2 separate regions of the Homo sapiens genome follow, and region 2 is linked to region 1. The links come from fine-mapping of genetic effects on gene expression. Tissue or cell type: blood mononuclear cells. Region 1 holds a variant in brackets; the other region holds the start of a gene. All regions are shown on one strand. Distances are between the middles of the regions.

Evidence for each region. PIP is the estimated chance that this variant, and not a neighbour inherited with it, causes the effect.
Region 2: LSM11 starts here. The variant in region 1 is fine-mapped to the expression of LSM11 in blood mononuclear cells (TOPMed, PIP 0.99).

The regions. Positions count from the first base shown.
Region 1 is chr5:157,606,453-157,614,468 of GRCh38, reverse strand. No RefSeq gene overlaps it. Among named protein-coding and RNA genes, the nearest start is that of ADAM19, 35 kb to the right of the region's middle. RefSeq lists enhancers at 2,533-2,592, 2,773-2,852. The variant G/A (reference allele first, on the strand shown) is at 4,004.
Region 2 is chr5:157,740,631-157,747,969 of GRCh38, reverse strand. It overlaps LSM11 (LSM11, U7 small nuclear RNA associated), which reads right to left and starts at 4,258. Exons shown (of 4, transcript NM_173491.4): 1 at 3,772-4,258. The coding sequence starts at 4,219. THG1L (tRNA-histidine guanylyltransferase 1 like) reads right to left here. Exons shown (of 6, transcript NM_017872.5): 6 at 6,521-7,339. RefSeq lists an enhancer at 3,395-3,895 and a silencer at 3,915-4,474.

The sequences.
Region 1 (8,016 bases):
CAACATATCCAACACCACCCCGCAAGTGATGAAGAATTAAGACCTGAACTCAAGTCTGTCTGCCTCCAAACTCAGCACTCTTTCTGCTCTACCACGTTAACTTTGCTGACAAACAATCCTGGGGTAAGATCCACGTCAAGTAGAACTCTCAGGTTAAGTCCTTTCTTCCATAGATACAAACGCCCTGTCCAGATCCTGAGCTAGCTTAGGATTGGAAGAAAACATGAAAGGTAGCTAGCTGCAAGATTAAAGGGGCCACCAAGGCATCCCTAATTCCATTGCCACCTGCCAGAGCACAGTGGATCCCTGCTACCTTGCCTGTCTGCTTGTGATAACCACCCCCATTCCTGCCTGTTCTTTTGAGAGATCCTCCGGTTCTGGTGCGGCTGATCACAATAGTGCACCCGGTCACAGTGACTGGCCCAGGGCTCAGTGTCCTACCCAGCAGGCCAGTCAGAGCCTTCACAAGGATTTTTCTAAGTGGACTTTCCAGGGCAGGCAATTTTGCTTTCCTCATGGAAAATGATTCTCTAAGAATGTGAGTCTGGATCTACTTGTGGCCGTGTTCTCTGGGGTTTGGGTAAAACCCATCTTTGGGAGGAGCAAATCATCGCAACACAGAAGCAGAGACAGGAAGACATAGAGCCCGACTGTGTTTGAGTCTTTGGTTCCATTTCCTGCAGGGCTCATCCTCACTGGTTCTTGAACAGTTCTCTAGTTCAAGGTTTTTGTTTTTGTTTTTGGTTGTGGTGGTAGTGGGTTTTTATTTATTGCGAATTAGTCTGGACAAACTCAGGGACATATAAACAGGCCCCTCGTGTGACGCAAGAAGCCAGTCAAGGAAGTCCCTGAGCCTACTCTGGCTGGGAGGCTGCCTGATAATGATTAAAAAAAAAAAGAAGAAGAAGAAGAAAAAGAAGCCAGTCATCATCTTGAAGCCCAGGGAATGCTTTTCATACTGCACATTTTTCACCTATCAGCTTTGGGATCAGGCATATCTAGGAAAGACTCCTGGCTCCATCACTTTTAGGGCTGTGTGACACTGTGTAAGTAACTTCGCCTCTCCAAACTTCAGTTCTCCGTACAATAAGAATAATAATTGTACATACCTCACAGGATTGCTGTGGAAGGTTAATGATTATACACAGTATTGGGTGATAATAAATACTAATGTGTTTGTCATTATTATTAGCAGTAGTTATGTTCCAGTATTTCCCTCTTGTGTTATTAGCAATAGATCAATGCCTCCCCTCTCTGCTCTATTTTATATGTCTCTGGGACACCCAGCTGAAATCCTCCAAGCTGCTAGAACAAGGCCAAGCTTGAAAAAATGATTAGAAGGGAAATAAGTTTATCTTACTTAAGTATCCACTTGCACTAGTGTTTAGCTTCTCTCTCTCCTCAAGATGTGATGAGACAATTGTTAGGAGGGTACTGGCCACTACCACCTCCTCATGTTTGTATAAAGTCATTCAGAACACTTTGCTTTCTCCTTTGAGCTTCATGAAAAACACAAGTGAAAGGTGAACAAACTGAGGCCCAGTGAGGAGCAATTGACGTAAACAGCTCCTCTTAAACGGAAGAGCAGGACCCAGGTCTGCCAGAAAAGAACCTAATAATTTACGCTAGCTAGCTCCTGCCTGAGAGTGCTGCATACTCTCACATAATGGTGCCAGCATGGTGCAGAAGGTCAACTTCTGACTCCCTCTGGCCTGACAAGATTGTCCGGAGAACTGACGGATCCAGATTCACTCTCACTTGCCAAGCATCTTACTGAGAAGGTAAAAGGATCAAGCAGGTGATTTCATGGAGCTGGGTAGAAGCTACATGAGCACAGGCCCTGTGCTCCTGCTGCCCAAGTCTTGGGTAGGACCACACACATCTTGCAACAAATGGGCAGAGATCAGAGTAACCCTGAAGTAGATAAAGATGCTGAATATAAACAAAGATGATTAAAGAGGCTATGGATTCAGGACACTGAATTTTGCTGCAGTGAGAGGAACCCTGGAGTCAGCTTTCTAACAGCCTGGCCATGTTTAGTTTATCAAACCTGGGCAGAGCAAAAGCCTCGGGATCCACTCACTCCATCAGAAACAAGTCTGAACAAGCCAGGTACTGTCCATCCGATACCCAGGCGTTTTGACGGTTCCTCTGTGGCCACCAGCCAAATGTAAATGGAGAATTCCAAGTCATCCATCATGCTTTAGCCACGCACGAGGTTAATGCCCTGTCTTTTAAAAGCACACAAAGGGCCATTTGAGTAGGAAAGTCCCACCAAATCCTGCTGAAACACCCGGCCCACTTTCGGATCATTTTTCTGAAGTGTCTTGGTTTGAAGGCACAGCTGTTGCTGAGATCCCTGAAAACAGCCTGCTGTTCTCTGTGGAAGCTATGGTAGATTAGTGTGGTTCAGCTGAGATACAGTCAAGCCCTTCAGACTGCCCCTTCCTCCAAATAACAAGCTGCTGACAACCTGATGTGGATTTTTACCAAAGAATCCATGTTTGCTTGCCTGCAGGCAAAGCTGGGTGTAGATTGAACTTCATGCGTGACTTTAGGCATGTCATCTCTCCTCTGTGGGCCTTGAGTCAAGACAGGAATGGATCCCACTCCATGCTGGAAAGTCCACTAACAAATGTGCATTTAGCACTTCTGCTTTCCAGGAGGGTAATGAATAAATGTGGCCTTCTCTGAATCAACCCCAGTAGAGTGGCTTTCGGAGTTCCCCAAAACATGAGACATAAACCAAGGACAAAGCCAGGATCAGGTTTATGCCTGCAACAGCTGTGGCTTTCAGATTGTTTCAGGTTGAAGAGGCTGAAACAACAGCTGCAGATCTATTCTTTGTCCTTGGGCTTGGACATAATGGGTGCAAATACAATTGAGACACCACCACCATGGCCATTTTCTGCTTTAGTAAATCCTAAGTTATGTCTTGGGGTCTGTGAAGTAAGATGGAAAATTAGTCATTCAGTGCAACCTAACCAAAAATGAATACATGTAGTTAGGTACCCCCAACCCCTATGACTTTCCAAATTCAGATTAATATTTTTGCTTAAAGATGTGCCAGATTCATAGAGTTGTAAGAGCCCTTTACATTATGGAGTATACAGGAAGTGGATAGCCTTTCTAGGTCATTCCTCATTCTCATGTCTCTAGCAGACATTGTTAGTGGGTCACAGAGCTCTCACCTTCTATCAGACATTCCTTCTCATCACAGAGGTGGTCTGGGCAGTCCCGGGCAGTGATAAGGGGTTCGTACTCAAGATAAAAGTCGTTTGCCGTCCCTGACCTAGCCCAACTCATGCATCTGCTTTCCACAGATAGAAAACAGGGCCAGAGATGGGAAGAACCCGGCCAATGCCACAGAATGAATCAGTGAATTTGTGGGAAGCTAAATAAAAGGCCTAGAATTCTTACAAATGTCAAGGAAAAACCATATTACTGCTTACTTTGCCTATTGTGCTGTATTTGTTCTCTCTTTCGGTTTTCTAGATTATTTGAATTGGCTTTTCCTAATTTTCTGTTTTTTTTCCTTATCTAAAAGCAATACTCACTCTATAGAAGTACAAATAAATGAAATGAAAAAAAAAACCCACTCAAATACTCACACATAATAAAACCATTGGTGAGTAAGGTCTATATACCTTTTCTATATATATATATATGTATATAGATATTATCTGTAATATGGAAATAATTGAAGCTTCCTTCTTAGAATTTCTGGTTACAATAAATCCTTAACAAAAACACGATTTCAGGCCAGGCACAGTGGCTCATGATTGTAATCCCAGCACTTTGGGAGGCTGAGGTGGGCGGAATCACTGGAGGTCAGGAGTTCGAGACCAGCCTGGCCAACATGGTGAAACCCCATCTCTACTGAAAAAAAAAAAAAAAAAAAAAACAAAAATTAGCTGGGCATGGTATGTCTGTAATCCCAGCTACTCAGGAGGCTGAGGCAGGAGAATTTCTTAAATCCAGAATGTGGAGGTTGCAGTGAGCC[G/A]AGATTGCGCCACTGTACTTCAGCCTGGGTGACAGAGCAAGATTCCTTCTCATAAAACTAACGTGTTTCTGAAGGCGAACAAAATAAAAAAACAAACCACTATTTGTGGGGAAGGGGGGGATGAACAGAGGTTGTCTAATGGGTCTGAACATACAGTTAGATAGAAGGGAATAAGTTCTAGTGTTCAATAGTAAAGTAGAGTGACTACAGTTAACAATAATTTATTGTATATTTCAAAATAGCTAGAAGAGAAAATTTGAAATGTTCCCAACACAAAGAAATGATAAATGTTTGAGGTGATGGATATGCCAATTACCCAGATTTGATCATCACACGTTATAAGCCTGTATCAAATTATATGTACCCCATAAATATGCACAATTATTATGTATCGATTTAAAAATTGTACTTCAGGTCATACCCTCGAAATGGACCTACACTGCACATATTGTTTTGTGACCTGCTTTGCATAAATGTTCATCAATCATAATGTCTAAATATGTATTTAACTTCCGTTGTTAGTCATTCAGACAGACTGTTACCAAATTTTTGTTACTCTCAGTAATATCCAGGAGAAATCTCTGCTCACAAATGTAATTGTTTTCTTATGAAAATTTCTAGAGGGAATCTGGGTCAAAGGGCAAACACATTTTAAGGACTTTTGACACATATTGACACATTGCTTCTCAATAACACTCAAAGCACAGGACCTGCAGTGTATGAAAGATGAAAGGAGATGCCTTTTAGCAGCTTCTTCATCACGGGGTAGGGTATCATCACTTCTGCTGTTCTCTTATTCTCCTGTCTGTATGCTTTGTGTAGCAAGGTGGAATGTAGGATTCTCAAGGGTGAAACGGCATTTTTGCTGTATCCATGGTGGATGTAACTGAATGCATAACAGTGATAGTAATAACAAATTAATATTCGTGTAGAGTTTACTAAGTGGTAGGCACCAGGCATCAGCTCCTAGGGTTGACAGCTCATTTTGTAGGGGAAGCTCAGAAAGGAAGAGCAACTTACCTGATGCCACACAGGGACAGAGCTCAGCTAAGCCTGACAAGAGCCTGCCCCCTAAGGCCCTTTGCTATGCCGCCTCCATGTAAGCAGTGCAAATAAATATTTGTGCATAGGTTGAATCATTCGTTATTTTCCTCTGGTAGAACAACACGAGAAACTCAGAAGGAGGCAGCCATAAAAATGGGCTAAAAAATGCCAGCTGAGTTCTCCCGGTCAGTCCTGACTTGAATAGTCCCAAAGGATTTGAGCAATGCTAGGTTTGAGGCTATGGCCCGAGGGAGTATTTTAATGAAGGGTTTCTTATGACTGAGAACTCTAAGAAGGAAGCTTGAATTATCCCCGTATGAAAATACAGCCATCTAAGATTATCAGTGGCATTTCCTTTTTATAGTGTTTGGCACTAATAATAGCCCCAAACTCCTTAACCCAACTTTCCAGCTTTTTAAAAGAACAGTACTTAGGAGAATGTCTGAACGCTGGGACTGACGGGACTTATTCCATCTAGTGCTTTCTCCCCGAAGGAGAAGGGGAAGGGGGCTCGGGGTTGATGGCTGCCTGCCTGCGTGCTGTGAGCCTAGATTCTTAAGGAAGTGAGGTGGGGCACGTGAGTCTGGAGGAGGAGAAAGGCCATGAGGTTTTTTATGGAGAACTCAGAACCAAGTCAGCAATGATCTGTCCTGGGCTCCAGGCCCTCTCTCCATGCTCCGTGGCAGCCCTGTTCCCGTTAGGCCCGTGGTCAAATTTCTAATAGGGGATCTGAGAAGCAATTGGCCAGCCTCTCCGAGCGCGCCTGAAAGGTCTTCGCAAAGCTGAGAGCGATTTTACAAACTAATGTGTTTCTGAAGGTGCCCTGTCCTTTCTCACTTCCATGTTTCTCCCACAGCATACCTGGTAGCAGGCCCTCTTCCTGCCACGTGCTTGTGGAACAGTTCATTACGTTTCAAAGCTACTTCTGTAAAAATCATTTTTTGAGGTACAATCGACATATATTAATATATCTCCATTTTAAGTGCACATACAACTTGATAATTTTTTTTTTTTTTTTTTTGAGACAGTCTCACTCGGTCACCCAGGCTGGAGTGCAGTGGCTCAATCTCGGCTCACTGCAACCTCCGTCTCTAGGGTTCAAGAGATTCTCCTGCCCCAGCCTCCCAAGTAGCTGGGACTACAAGTGCCCACCACCGACCCAGCTAATTTTTGTATTTTTAGTGGAAACGGGGTCTCGCCATGTTGGCCAGGCTGGTCTCGAACTACTGATCTGAAGTGATCTGCCCATCTCAGCCTCCCAAAGTGCTGGGATTACAGGCATGAACCACTGCCCCCCGCCACAACTTGGTGAATGTTGACAAACGTCTGCACCTGCCCCAATCAAAATTTAGAACATTTCCATTCCCTCAGAAGTCTCCTGCCACCTCCAGCCAGTCCCCTCTCTCACCCCAGCCCCAGGCAACCACAGATCTTCCTGTCAGTATAGCTTAGTTTTGCCTTTTCCGGCAGTTTCACATACGTTGACTCATAGAGTTGTTTCTGGTTTCCTTCACTCAATATAAAGAAAGGAATCATCAATGTTGTTGCATATATTAATAGTTTTCATATTACTGGGTAATAAACTATTGTGTGGATGTACCACAATCTATCTGGAATTTGAGTTATTGCCAGTTTTCGATTGCTATGAATACAGTTGCTATGCACATTCATGCACAAATCTTTTTGTGGGCATATAGCATATAGGAAGTATGTGGCCTTTCTGGGTCATTCTCATGTCTCTAGCAGACATTGTTAGTGGGTCACAGAGCTCTCAATTTCTATCAGACATTCCTTCTCATCACAGAGGTAGTCTGGGCAGTCCCTGGCAGTGATAAGGAGTTTGTACTGAAGACAAACGTCGTTTGCCATCCCTGACCTAGCCCAACCCATACATCTGCTTTCCACAGATGGAAAACAGGGCCAGAGATGGGAAGAACCTGGCCAGTGTCACAGAGTGAATCAGTGAACTTGTGAGAAGCTAAATAAAGGGCTTAGGTGATTCATTTCTCTCAGGCTAGTAAATACCTAGGAGTTGAATTGCTGGGTCATAGGGTAAGGGATAAATAAACTGCCAAACTGTTTTCTAAAGCTGAATATTCTTCTAAGTGATATCTCACAGTGGCCTTACTTTACAATTCCGTGATAACTAATAATGTTGAACATTTTTCATGTATTTGCTGGCCATTTATATATCATCTTTTTTGAAGGGTTTGTTCAAATCTTCTTCTTCTTTTTTTTTTTTTTTTTTTGTGAGTTGCCTTCTTTCATTGAATTTTAAGAGTTCTTTATGTATGTTGGGTACAAGTCCTTTATCTAATATTTGCATTGCAAATATTTTCTTCCAGACTGTGGCCTGCCTTTTCAGTTTCTTAATAGTACCTTTCAAAGTACAGGCAATTTTTAAATTTTAATGAAGTCTAATTTATCTTTTTTTTCTCTCTCTTATGGTTTATACTTTTGTGTCCTGTCCAGGAAATCTTTGTCTACCATAAGACTGTAGTTTGTGAACATTTTCTCCTATTTTTTTTCTAGAAGTTTTATAGTTTTAGCCTTTACTTTGTCAACCTAAAATAATAAAATTTAGAAAATATGATTAAATGTAGAGTTTTTTTGAGCACAAAGCTTGAGGACAGCCACCCAGGAAGCACAAATTTGAAAGATGGAATTGTACTGTTGTGCTCTGAAGTGCAGAAGTTTGGGGTGGTTTACATAGACAAAGTTTAGGAGAAAAAATCAGAATTTTAACTTTTTTTATACAAGGCTTTTTTTTTTTTTTTTTCCTGAGACAGACTTTCATTCTGCAACCTAGGCTGGAATGCAGTGGCACCATCAGCGTTCACTACAGGCTCGACCTCCTGAGATCAGGTGATCCTCCCACCTCAGTCTGCTGAGTAGCTGGGACTGCAGGTGTGTGCCATCATACCCAGTCAATTTTTTATAGACACAGGGCTTCGCCGTGTTGCCCAGGC
Region 2 (7,339 bases), 130 kb before region 1:
AGACTATTCCTTAGTTGCACTGGAGACAGCTGACTGGAAACAGCTGCAATGAGCTGAGAAAAGTGACAAGGCTGAATTTTAAGCTTGGCCTTTTCTGAAGCCTAAGTACCGCTGTTCTCGGTTTTATGTAAGTCATACTCATGCCCTTTTGGCAACCTCTGTGTAACAGAGATGCTGTTCAAATTTGAGAGTTCATTTTACTGCTGTACACAGGGCTCAGATGTTCTTGATTTTGCCTATTTTCTTGCTCTTTATTTGCAGGAAGTGAAGTCAAAGTTATCCAAAGAATATCACTTTATTAAAATGAAAACATCAAGACACCATATTGTGGGAAATTATTTCAGCAATCAAAGTAAACTACAACAACAGGACTCAAACAAATTTTCAATCATGGTATCACGTCAGAGGCCCAATAAATCAGGTTTGTTTTGAAATCCTTCTCAGCAGGATGTGTGCGAGTAAAAGGACTGTGTAGGCTCCCTGCAGGAAAACTGAATTTGGAACTGGAGACAAGCCATTCACCTAGACAATGGTCTAGGAGCCAAACCCTGCATGTCATATGCATTTTGGATTGACCACACACACTTGTTCACACCGGCACAGGCTGCACACCAACACACCTGTAGCTAAAACAAAGTAATGATAACACTTTTTCTTACAGCTTTATAATGTCAAGACGTGAGCTTGAACACACCAGTTCATTTCACAGTGACAGATATACCTAGAAAAAGCTTGCTTGAAGCACAATTATAAACCAGAACCACCGTGGGCTAGGTATGGTGCTGCGATACTAAGGAGAAATATAGACACTAGAATTATGTGGAAAAGAGGATAATGCTCTTTAGTCTTGTCTTACCATCTCTATAGGCATGTCAATATTAAAAAGGAGGAAAAGCAATTGCATTCCACTTGCAAGTACAGCTTGTGTGTGAGTTCTTTGTTGGTATCAGTGATGGCTTAGGCTTAATGATGACGAAAAACCTTTCCTCCTATGCTTTTTTTCTTCTTTAGTATTCCCAGTATTGCAACAGCCTCCTATACTTTTATTATTACTTTTTTTTGAGACCTCGTATCACCTCTGTAGAGGTCTCTATGATGTCCCTATGATCTCGGCTCACTGCAGCTTCCACTTACAGGGTTCAAGCGATTCTCGTGCCTCATCCTCCTGAACAGCTGGAACTAGAGGCAGATGCTGCCATGCCCAACTAATTTTTGTATTTTTAGTAGAGACAGGGTTTCACCACGTTGGCCAGGCTGGTCTTGAACTCCTGGCCTCAAGTGTTCTGCCCGCCTCGGCCTCCCAAAGTGCTGGGATTACAGGTGTGAGCCACTGTGCCTGGCTACTTTTAAAATTTTATTACTGCAAGGAAAAGAATACAACTGCTCCACAAGGGAATTCAAAGAGATTCTATGACAGAGATACAAAGTGAAATATTTTACAGTTAAAACACCATTACACTTAATTTTGCACTCCTTGTTTTTTCATAAACATTCCACACTGTCCTCTCTGTGAATTTGGATGGGTAACTTGGATCTGAATTGATGAAATACATCATTTTAAAGTCAGCGACAAAATGTAGCTCCTCATGTATTCTTCATTATGTTTCACTGATGATATGACCTAACAAAGCTTCTTCTTGCTGTTACAGCCTGATGGAACTTACATTTTATGTGAATATTTTGCAAAGGATTATGCATTCTCAAATGCATAGGCATTTTTTTCCAGAAAGCATTTGTATATGTCCACAAATAGTATTATCTTACTGGTATCTATATTTTGATTTTCCTGAGCAACTGTATCCAATCAGAGTTTAGAGTAGGCATATATTTTTTTAAATTAAAACTGTGGCATACATATAAAACATACCTAGTTCTTTTTTTTCCCCCCTTCCAACTTTTGTTTTTGGATCAGGAGGTACACGAAAGGTTTGTTGCAGGTGTAAATCGTGTGTCACTGGGGTTTGGTGCACAAATTATTTTGTCACCCAGGTAGTGATCACAGTACCCAATAGGTAGTTTTGTGATTCTCACCCTCCTCCCACCCTTCACCCTCAAGTAGGAACTCTTTCTTGAATGAATCCAATCCTCACCCATGTTTCTGTTGTTTTCTTGCTTTCTGAAGGTCATCAACTCTGTGCGACGTCAATGCCTTTCTCTCATGTACACTCAACTGTCTGCAGTGCCATGGTGAAAATTTTCAGTATGTAGGGCATATTCTCTGAGATCTTGATTCCAGGGATATATACTTAATCATAAGAAGTTGACAAAGCTGGTCTTCACACACTGTCATACCATTACAGTAAAGTGCTCTATAGGGAAAGCTAAAACCACCCACCACATAGCAATACACAGGAATATTCCTTTCCCTTGACAATCTTGGTAGCAAAGCAATAACTGGTAAAATAGAAATAAATGTTGCAATGAGACTTGGAGTGCATTTCAACTACCTAATGGTGGCAAATTGCATAGGCAAATTAAGGTCCCCCAAACTGCTCTCATTTTGGGAACAAGCATACTGTCTTTGTGTTACAGCCAGGCAAGCAGGCCGGGGTAAATCCTAGCTTGGGCAGGGATGCTGTGGCATGGTAAGACATCCAACGAAGGCACACGGAACAGCACAGAGCGTTTCAGGATGTTCTCTCTTAATAAACAAATTTCTAGGAATGAAGCAAAACAGTCCCTTGCTTGGCACACCTCTCCATCCAAAAGACAGTGACTTAATAAGGTAACAATTTAATTATCAGGATACAGATGCTTTGAATGGCTAAGTAGGTCATTGTGTTCACAGGGCAGATGTCAGAACTGCTTGCCAGATGACAAAAGAGATAACCTTAGGCTGTTTTTATTCCATTTATACAAGACCTAACTCACACATTAGAGCCTCTGCTGTTTACAGCTTTACTCTAAGGATCTATGAGGAGGCTCCAAGAAATTCCCTTGTGCCATTTACACCTTTAGAACTTAAAATAACCTGCACATATGGTAATATGAGCCTGACAGACACAGTCCTGCACCCAGCCAGGCAGAGTGGCTGTAAAACAGCGTCTGTGTTTTAGTGGCATTCTGTGCCTGCTGCATTTCAGCACTTGTGACTTAGTAATGTGAACATATGTGTATCAAGACTCTGCAGCCCTTCTGCTTATCGCACTCGAGAAGGAGCTGTCAATGTACAGGGGTTATGGGATTATGCGCCTGTGCTATCTGAACAAATCTCCCCACACTCCATCCGATCATCCTCAAATCCCACTGACCAAATACTCTCCTTCCCCTAATATTGGCTGTGCGCTCCCCCACGTCTCCCGTTTTCCGCCCCACCTTACCTCTCACTGTGGTCTCTAAGACCTCTCATCACCTCTGTAGACGTCCCTATGATGTCCCCCAAACTCTGTAGCCCCGCCACCTCTCCAGGTCCTCCATCAATCCTGTAGACCCTCTCGGCAGGCTCATCACCTCTGTGACCCTTCCATGGGCCCCGATTACCGCTGAAGACCTTTCCCACGGCTTCTTATGACCACTACAGCCTTACCACTCTCCCTCTGTTGCTCCTACAGCCCCTTTTCTTACTCAGGGTGACCCTCCCCACGCCCTCATTACCCACATTACTCAAGCAGATCCACCCCATAGTCACTGATGATCCCCGCAAATTTTCACCAAGGCGCTCCCGCAATACGTGCAGACCCGCGCCCGGCCACCGCCGCCCCGCAGACGCCCCCTCGGCAGCCAGCTTCCGGACGGCGGCTGCCCCGCTTCCCGCCCGGCCCGCGGACTCACAGGGCATTCGCGTGAGCACGTTGCGTGGCGCCTTCCTGCTCCGACCCGGACCCCTCCGGCCCGCTCCTGCGGCCCCGTCCCCTTCCTCTTTGGCCACCATGAGACGGCGGAGGCGCTGGATGCGCTCGGGGTCCGGGGCGGGCGCGTCCGGGCGGCGACGAGTCCTGCCCGAGGGCCCGGGTGCGGCGGGAACCCCAGAGCCCGCGGCCGCGCCCCGAGCCCGCCCGCGCCCGCGCCCGCCGCCCCGGACTCCGGTCCTGAGGAAGCTCTCGTACTCCGCCACGTTGTTGAAGCAGGGGGCATTGGGGTAGGGAATGGGAGGCAGGCGGGGCGCGTACAGGGCCAGCAGCGGGTCGAAGCTGTCAGAGCTGACATCCAGCCGCGGGCTGGGCGGGCGCGCGGGGCTCCCGGCGCCAGCCGACCTCGCCCCCCGCTCCCGCTCCTCCATGTTTGAAAGGCCCGCAAGCCGAGGCCGATGGGAAGAAGGAACGAAGCCGCCAGAGGGCGGCACTGCGCAGCCGCGGCGCGGGGTTGCACTGCGCCGAAGCGGCCGCGGGAGGGCAGCACCTGTCCTCGTTCCACCCGGGCCGGGGGGCGTGGTACGCGGCTCCGACCAGCCCGCGCCTCGCACCGCCTCCTCCCATAGCTGACAGGTTAACGCTGTCGACTGCTGCTTGACCTGCTCCAGCGCAGTTTCCCCGTCTGTATCATTATCACTTAGGGTGTTTGTTAATACTCTGGGTTCCCCGGGAATGAGCTCGGGATCGCATCCTAGCTTGAGCTGGCAGGAAGCGTCTGGAGGAAGGCAATGAATGTCTCAGTTTGCTTCCATGCTGAGTACTACTGATAGGGTGGGAAGAATAGCCTATCTGGGCTCAAAGTATTTAGCGTGTTTCTCGTCTGAAATATGATATAAATAGCACCTACCTTATAGAACTGACCTCAGGATGGAGAGATACTGCCTACAGAGCTCATAATAGATGCATGTCAGCCAATACTGGGTGTCTGTCCTCCATTTCCTATACCCTGTGCATAAACAAATTTGTGCTTAGTATCAAAGAAAATTCATTATATCACTGTCTTTCTAAGCATTGCTAACCAATTGGAAGAAACGAAGATCCAGCTCTTGGAGGAAACTATGGAAAATTCCCAAGACCTGATCATACCACTTGCTACTTTATAGTCTCAGTTCGGCAAAATATTTTTTGGTTGATTTTAAAATGACAGTCTACTCTTCGCGGAAGGCCCAGATATAACCTTCTCATCCAGCAGAGCCAAAATGTTTCCACTCACCTACAGGCCACACATCACTTGCCCGTCACCACATTCTCAAACTGCCATCAACTAGTATTCTCTGTACTAGTTGCTTTGTGTACATTTCAGTTTCCTTAAGACTTAGGAAGTCCAAGAGAATACTGGAGAGTACCTTAGAGAGCAAGATGAAAATTAATATACAACTCTGAAATATACCTTGGGATGAATGCATACTACAGCGAAGACAAAACCATCAAGCAGGCCGGGCGCGGTGGCTCACGCCTGTAATCCCAGCACTTTGGGAGGCCGAGGCGGGTGGATCACGAGGTCAGGAGTTCAAGACCAGCCTGGCCAAGATGGTGAAACCCCGTCTCTACTAAAAATACAAAAAATTAGCCGGGCGTGGTGGCACGCGCCTGTAATCCCAGCTACGCTGGAGGCTGAGGCAGAGAATTGCTTAAACCTGGAGGGGCGGAGGTTGCAGTGAGCTGAGATCGCGCCACTGCACTCCAGCTGGGGTGACAGAGGGAGACTCCATCTCAAAAAAAAAAAAAAAACAAAAACCATCAAACAGTGGCTTCTAATTGGTAGCAGTACAGGTTTCTTTATGGCACAGGTTTTGAACCCAGCTTATCACTTTGTTCAAAACCCCCTGCCTGAATAAAAAACTCAAAGCTGCAGAATTGCTGGCAATTCAACAAATGAGCGCTCATCCCCACATCATATGGCAAAACTGAGTGATAGCCTTTATAGTGTCATTTAAGACCCACAGAAAGCACGTTTCTCTGGGTGGTTTTCTTGAAAATTTGTACTCTAATGCCTACTTGTATTTTGATATAAAATGCTGTCAACTTACCATTAAGTTAAAATTGCCAATCAACAGCTACATTATCTTACTTCCTTCCCACCCAGCCTATCACAGTATACCGAGGGCCTTGCTGCCGAAGCTGCTGTATATTGACAACCACACATATCAGAAGCCTTTGGGGCTAAAAATCAGATTGCTGGCTGGGCGTGATGGCTCACACCTGTAATCCCAGCACTTTGGGAGGCTGAAGCGGGCGGATCACGAGGTCAGCAGTTCGAGACCAGCCTGGCCAATGTAGTGAAAACCCCCGTCTCTACTAAAAATACAAAAATTAAGCCAGGCATGGTGGTGCGTGTCTGTAGTCCCAGCTACTCAGGAGGCTAAGGCAGGAGAATCACTTGAACCTGAGAGGCAGAGGTTGCAGTGAGCTGACAGAGCGAGACTCCATCTCAAAAAAAAAAAAAAAAAAAAAAAAGATTGTTGAGCTTCAAACCTTTCTGGGGGCTGGGAGGAGCCAAAAATGTGCATTTTAAACAAGCATTCCAAGTAATTTTTTTTTTTGCATCCAGAAGTTTGTGAACCACTGCTATGATGAGGGCATGTGTATCCTAGGCTACCCAGAGATATACACAAAAGTTAGATTTCATATAGTCTATTTGTCTAAGAAAAATAAATGAAAAAGCAGGCCAAAGGAGTTGACATCTTTATTTCTTTCCTCAAAGAGATTTTAGCAATTACCAAACAAGAACCGTATCTCCTCTTTCTGTGGAGTGAGAACAGGAAGGGAAAAAATGGCATCGACAGATGGGTTGTCAATTAGTGAGGGATGAGGCCAGCCATCACCCTTTCAAAAATACATTTTCTTCTTAGATGTAAATTCTGCAGTGCAAGACGAGGGACTGGGACACGGGCTGTCTCTTAATTTTTTTTTTTAAGGCAGTTTTGCTCTGTCACCCAGGCTGGAGTGCAGTGGCATGATTTCAGCTCACTGCAACCTCCACCTACCAGGTTCAAGCAATTATCCTGCTTCAGCCTTCTGAGTAGCTGGTATTGCAGGCACACGCCACCACGCCCAGCTAATTTTTCTATTTTTAGTACAGACTGGGTTTTGCCATGTTGGACGTGCTGGTCTTGGACTCCTGGCCTGAAGTGATCTACCTGCCTCAGCCCCCCAAAGTGCTGGGATTACAGGTGTGAGCCACCATGCCCAGCCATGTCTTTTTTTTTTTTTTTTGAGATGTAGTTTCGCTCGTTGCCCAGGCTGGAGTGCAATGGCACAATCTTGGCTCACCGCAACTTCCGCCTCCTGAGTTCAAATGATTCTCCTGCCTCAACCTCCCAAGTAGCTGGAATCACAGGCATGCACCACCATGCCCAGCTAATTTTTTGTATTTTTAGTAGAGACGGGGGTTTCTCCACGTTGGTCACGCTGGTCTCGAACTCCCGACCTCAGGTGATCTGCCTGCCTGGGCCTCCCAAGGTGCTGGGATTACAGACGTGAGCCAC